2 linked regions of the Homo sapiens genome follow. The protein of the gene in region 2 purifies or fractionates together with the protein of the main gene of each other region. This does not show direct contact. Each region holds a gene or a part of one and is shown on either strand. Other genes may lie near its edges.

What was found.
Region 1: the proteins of CDH19 (region 2) and MBIP purify together in Homo sapiens (affinity purification with mass spectrometry; 2 studies listed by BioGRID and IntAct, with this or other methods). This does not show direct contact.

The regions. Positions count from the first base shown.
Region 1 is NC_000014.9:36,307,138-36,310,637, forward strand, and holds part of MBIP (MAP3K12-binding inhibitory protein 1), read right to left. Parts: intron 1,053-3,500; coding exon 955-1,052; intron 1-954. UniProt on the Homo sapiens protein: Inhibits the MAP3K12 activity to induce the activation of the JNK/SAPK pathway. Component of the ATAC complex, a complex with histone acetyltransferase activity on histones H3 and H4.
Region 2 is NC_000018.10:66,569,591-66,573,090, forward strand, and holds part of CDH19 (cadherin-19 isoform 1 preproprotein), read right to left. Parts: intron 2,727-3,500; 5' UTR 2,615-2,726; coding exon 2,420-2,614; intron 1-2,419. UniProt on the Homo sapiens protein: Cadherins are calcium-dependent cell adhesion proteins. They preferentially interact with themselves in a homophilic manner in connecting cells; cadherins may thus contribute to the sorting of heterogeneous cell types.

The DNA.
Region 1 (3,500 bases), on a different chromosome or scaffold from region 2:
GAAATTTTGTCATTTAGGACTTGCTGCTCCCTTTTGTTACGTGACCTGCCTTCTTCTTCTGGAAATACTTCTTTTCTGTAACTCACTCTTATACTCAATCTATAACTTTGGAAGATTGCTGTCATACCTAAAATAAATTTTAAATATATTTTCACCACTAACTTATATGATCCATGCTAAAATGGGCTATCTCACATAATTTTTCAGAAATAGGAGTTTTGGTATAATCTCACTTTGATATTATTTTAGTTCTAATATGGTACTGCTTTAAAAAAAAAACAAAACTTAGAGAAGGCAGGTATTATACATAATCACCTCAGAAGACTGAGGAAAACACAATGAGCTCAGGATCATTTTTCTGAAAAATGTTGATGTGCCAAAGATACTAACTTACCAGCACAACACTGTTTCTTAAGGTTCTTGGAAAACGGGGTAAGAATGAATGAATGCTAGAGTTAAGGAATTACAAAAACATAGAAAGTCTGGTGGTTAAGGTAAAGAATAAGAGTGGCAGCTTGAGGTGTGTGTTTGTTTAGTATTAACTGCATATGAGCTGAGAGAAGGAGCCTGTTGGGGAAGAGAGATTAAAGAGGCAGAGGGATCACTGAAAGAGCAAGGTTACAGAGGAAGCCTCTGTTTTACAAGGTAGCAAGTTCAGAGTAACAGGCCCAACCACCACCCAGGCTGACTTACTATGCCATGAAAATGGCCTAAGTTTGAGAATGTGGGTAATATATAATAGAAGTATCCCTTTTTAAAAATTCTAAATTTTAAAAATATTCAGAACCAGAGATTTTAAGGAATTAGATATATCCCCTATACAGGACTGTGTTCATTCATCTTTGAATTATTAAAATAGTGTTTTGCTTATAGATCAATGAGTGACTGTTAAACCACAAAGAATCCAGAATACAATAACATTTTCATTTATTTTTAAAAGACACTTATACTCACTACAGACTGAAAATATTCAGGAGAGATGCCTTCCAATTCAAGGATTTTATCCTCAAGTTTTTTAATTCTCTGATAAATGTCTCTTGGCACTGGACCACCTAAATACATTAAAAAAAAATCTGAGATACTATTGAATAATTCTTTCTTTTCACAATTTTTATTCTTAAAATACCATGCAAAGACACTTATGCAAAGGAATGGAAAATACTTAAGAAAATAAAAAACAAAAGTAAAACAGAATGAAGTCCTTAGGTCGTATTTTTGTATTATACACTATCGGACATATTGTACTACACTTCCTCTCTCCAAACCCCATTTATGCTTCCTATATTCTAGGAGTTTCATGTTAAATTCATTTTACAAGATATTGAATAGCTTCCATGTAGAACAATTTATATTTCTGATATGCTTTGATAGTTACATGGGAGGACAAAAATGCATAGTGACAAATGACGATAATTCAATGCAGTGGTTGCAATATGTCATATTATTTTCTTCAATTAATATTTCTCCCTACATGCCATATTTTTCCTTTGACCTAAAAGAATGTAAAAAAGGGGCTTTACCATAATTCTAAACTAACAAACTTTCTGAGGAGGGGAAGAGTAAATTATGGCCACTCAAATTTTAAATTTATGATTATATCAAGAATCCTTCTACTTCTCACCCCCTCCACACTGTGGCCTTTCTGGTCCAGACCACTTCCACCTCTCCCTGGATTACTGCAACTCCCAAACTGGTCTCCCTGTTTCTGCCATGCTTCCGTAGAGTGTATTTTCAACACAGGAGCCAGTGATCCTCTAAAAATATAAGTTAGATCACATCATTTCTCTGCTTCCAATACCTGATCATTTCACTGAGGTTAAATACCTTCCAATACCTGATCATTTCACTCAGATTAAATACCAAAGCCCTCACAATGGCCTACAAGGCCATACACAATGTGGATATTCTCCCTATGCCCACATGGTTCCAGCCACTTGATTACTTTTTTTCTGTTATTCAAAGAGGCCAAGCACCCTGTAAGCTTCAGCTGGTTCCCTCTACCGCCATAATCCCAAGTCAATTTCAAGTCTTGGCTCAAAAGTTACCTTATCAGTAACACCTTCTCTGACTATTCTGTTAAAAATACCAGTACTACCACTCCCCTACCCAGCACTCCCTTATCCTCCTTACCTTAATTTTCTCCATTCCATTACTACCACCCAACATTCAGTATATTTTCTTTCTGTATTATTTGTTTCCCCATTCTAATATAAGCTCCAAGAGGACAGAGTTTTATCTGTTTTGTTCATTAGGTAGGGCTGTGCAGCTTGTGCACTGCACAAACCTAGGAAGCATCAGTTCATAAGACTACAATGCATGGCAAAGAGCTGGTGCTTGATATTTACTGACTGAATGAATACATGATTAGCCAATCATTATGCAATTAAAGAATACGGGTAAATTTCTATATCAAAATTGTCAACTTGTTATGTAAAAATTCTAGAAATTTTGAGGATTTTAAGAAATCTTAGGACCTTGGTTGTTCTTGTTCTTAAATAAGTTAACTTGTTCATTTGACTTTGCTTTTGCTGCTCCCTTTACCTACAATGTCCTCTGCCTTACTTCTGTATCTTTCAAGAGCCAGTTCAAGCTTCACTGGGTAACGCAGGCACTGCCGAAACCTCTTCATTCGCATAAAGGCTCCTTGTGCCCCCACCATTCTTCAGTGCTCCTGAGTTTTTTGGGACAGACTCTCACTATACTGTCCAGGCTGGTCTCAAACTCCTGGACTCAAGCTCTGTTCCCCACTCAGCCTCCCAAGGAACTGGGATTATAGGCACACACCACTACACCCATCCTTTCATTACTCCTTTAAAACTCTACTTCACTATTAATCTTTCTCTCATTTGGATTATAAAGTCCTTGAAGCTGGGGACTATGATTATATCATCTCAGTATCCCTTGTGCCTAAAATAGTGCTTGGAGCATAGTAAACATTCAACAGATATTTTTCCAAAAACTTAACTGTTTCATACTATTATTAGAGACTTAACCAGTCAATCCTTTTATACAGTGGCATTTTAAACCCATCCACTTCTGAGGGAAGAGATTAATTCTTAATGCCAGTGTCTTATTACTCTCAAAGACTTACTCATTCTGTTTTCTTCTTCTACCTTCATCTGGCTAGCATAGCTTCAGATAGCTAGTATACTCCAGCTATACTGGATTCAGATATCTCCTGAACCATATTTTGTGTTTTTGTCCTTTTTTGCAAATGGTGTTTCTTCTTTTTGGAATGCTTTGCTCTGGAAAATTCCTACTAATCCTTCAAGGCCTCAAATGTCACTTCATTAGGATGCCATCATCCCTTGACCTACCCTGAGAGAGTCAAACACTAACTTTCTGTCCCTCCGTACATACATCTGCAAAGGTGAAATAAGCAACTGTCCATTCAATAAACATTTGAGCACTTGCTTTGTGCCAGGCACTGTAATAGGTACAAAGAAATGAATATGACAGACATAGTTGCACTCTCACGGACTATCTAGCAGGAGACAGAC
Region 2 (3,500 bases):
TAAATTAGTTCATCATTCATACTGTTGAGGTATTATTTAGAATTTTTAATTTATCTGTAAAAAAACCCGTCTAATTCTGATATAGTTAAAATGATCACATAGCTTTTCATATCAGAATTATTTGTATGTAAGAGAAGAATGTCATGGTTCCCTAATCATTGTGAATCCACATTTTCTTGATTCACCATTTATGAAAATGCTCTTATTCACAGTAAGAGTTCCTCTGAAAATTTACAAAGATAATCATGAAATCAGTTGTAAACAAATTCATGATTTTTCTGATGGCTTAAGTTATAATTTCTTATACTGGATAAATTAATACACTTTCTTTGCGGTTGTGGAGAAAATCTGAAGGTACTAGTAACTAATTTTGCATTTTAATAACATGCCGAATATCAATGCTATGTAATGAAAAATAACATCCAGATTGTCTTTCTGGTAATACTTCTTTTGATAGTTCTTAATTATTCCTAAAAGAAATTCTTCATGCGATGATGTAAGAAATTGAGGAACAAATTATACAATCAAATCAATATATCAAGTGAGCAATGTATGGTTCATATTTTTAAATTATATCATTTCAATATGATTTGATAATTTATTTGATATTATAATGAAGATAAATTAAGTTTAGTAATAAGTAAATATATTGCAAGTATATGTGCAGTGTAATTTTCAAAGACAAGTAAGCTTGACATTTTTAAGACCCAGATTTAAGGGAAGACAGAAACAAAAACGAAAAAGCTTACTTGAACACCAGCCTTTTAATGTCATAAAATGCATATGTTAAACACATTTCAATCAAATGGCCTGTAGTATTATACAATTTTCTATATTTTTATTCAAAAAATATTTTCCTAATTAGGCTGCTACTATCAATTTGCTAAACAAATATCACTTCAAATTTTCACTTAATTGTACTTCCCAATCTTAATCATTTTTCAAACAAATGGATCAAAGAGAGTTATCTTGAACGCAGCAGCTAAATTGTATATTTACTAACTCTTTTGACAAGCACCTAAACATTCATTATTGTTCTTTTTGAAATCAGTGATTCACTTGTTTTTTAAGCCTGATGAGTTTGTGTAGCAGAAAAACATTTTTCAGAGTAGTTTCATAAATATGTCTCTGAAATGAAAAAATAGGCAAAACCAATCACTGTGAGAAAGGAGGTAAACAGAGATTCATGTGGGGAGTAGAAACAAACAAACTAGAAAATGTGACAGCCCCAGAGGTGGCCTGTGTTCCAATTACACTGATGCACTTCCCTATAACACCTTATTTACTAAAAGCCAATAGCTGATTTTAGCCTGTCACCCCATTCAGTGATGGGAGAGTATATGGTGTTCTGTGCAGTCCACTGTAAAGGTAGCTAGAGACTCAGTTACTGAGTCGGCACCTAACTGTGGACCTTCTTAGTGCCAACTGTGCGTATTATTTACCTGTAGTCTGAGTCGAAAATAAAAGGGGTTGAGAAATATTTCTTGTAATGTGTGTGTGTGTGTATGCGTGTGTGTGTGTGTTCACAATACACCCTCCTCCCTGCACGTTTGGAAATACTTGCCTAAAATCCTAATCTAAGGCTTTGGTTGAATGTACTCATATACATTTGGCTGATAACACAGGTGAAGTTCTATGGAATCCAGATACCATGCTAACACTGCAGCTCTCCTGAAAGGGCTAGAAAATGAGAGTTAATAAATTTTGAGTGCTTCACCCTTTGGGCCCAATTAAATTTTAGTGCCAGTTAATTAGCGGTTAAACTTATTTCAGTTCATTTATCTAGAGAAAAAGCCTTATGGAAAAGGACATGATATTGTAATCACCTTTGTTTAAAGAAAACCAAATAATAAAATACAAGCCAAAAACATAAATAGGAGATGCTTTGTCTCATTAAGGAATTGTTCTTAAAATATATTCTTTTAAGAAAGTGAACATAATTATTCCTTTTACTTTAACTTTACTAATCAATTTAAGTGTGTAGGCTCCTGAAGCTACTTAACTGTAGGAGAATATGGTATTAACCTGCTTCATTAAAAATGAACGAGGGGTAAATCAACAGCTACTTAGCGTAACAGAAAATCGGGCTAAATACTGTTGGTAAATGATATTTGTCTCACTGTGACTGCTTAGATTCATTACCAAAAATAACGCAATAAAGTTTCCAGATGTTGAAAATGAGGGCTGCATTTTCATACGGGATACTGAAGTGAAATTTAAAAACCAGAGCTATCCCTCTTCAAGATTTTAGTGGATGTTTTAGGTGCTTGCAAATCTGAAACAATTATTGATGCTGCTGTTTGAAGCTTTTCAATGGCTTCACTGTAAAAATGTGGAACTCATCAAATCTCCAAACTTCTCCAACATATTTATTTACATTGTTGTGCTATTTACTGTAACATTTTAAATAAATAAGTACCTGGCCGATGTGATGACTAGTCGTATTCATTTCCTCTGGTACAAAAAATTGGTTCCACACCCAGCCACGCTTCACTCTCAAATGAGATCGCACTGGCTGCTTGACTTTCTTTGTTTGAGAGTTTTCTGTTGCTCCAAGACAAGGCCATAGGAGAGGAATTCCCAACATAAAACGCAGCAGTAAATAACAGTTCATTGCGTTGACTCTTTTGATTCCAACTATTACTCTTCAGAGGAAACAGGACGTCACTAACAAAAATCTTGCTTTCTTTTATAATCTTTTCTGATTCTGTGTACCTTCTATATACCTAAAGCGTCAGAAACAAAACAAAATTTGACATTTTAAAATAACATTTTCTCACATAATTACTAAAGACAGGTTACAACTTCTGCATCTGACAAAAGTGGAATAAAAATAAACATTTAATTTATCTTCCAATTAAGCTGGCTAATTATGATTTGTAGCTCAGCAATAATTTGATTAGAATAATTATAAATTTCCACTCAGGCACTGCTAGTTTTAAACTGCAGTCATAAATCTGCCTGAAAGTTGAAAGATTGCTCTGGGAGTCTCCTGGATTGACAGCTGACATTGAGATAGACTTCCTTTTAATTTGACTTGCTTACTTTCTCCATTCTTTCTCAGTAAAATACAAACTATCTCATTAAAGCAACAGTCAATCCAGGAGGAAAAAAGTCTTATTTTTCCTTTTTATATTTGATAGAGATAAGCTTCCTCATCCAATTTCCCAAATTATGGTATTTTATGTAGTAATTAAATAGACAAAATGACAATTCAGCTTAAAACTGGTGAATTCAATAATCAGTTACACTGATACTATAAAACACTGAATAGAAAGCTTGCATAAGATATTTACTCTTTTTTAATTTCAAAGATATGGGGAAGAAGTGTTTATCAGCTTAACAAAAACAAAATCCTCTTAGGACAATAAATACAAAATGATTGTTCCTGGGTAAGAATGGGTGAATGTTTGTAATATGTAAGAATGATATGAAATGTATCTTCTAGTATTTAAATATTAAAACAAAAGACTCTGGCTATTGAGTTTTACATTTAAAAC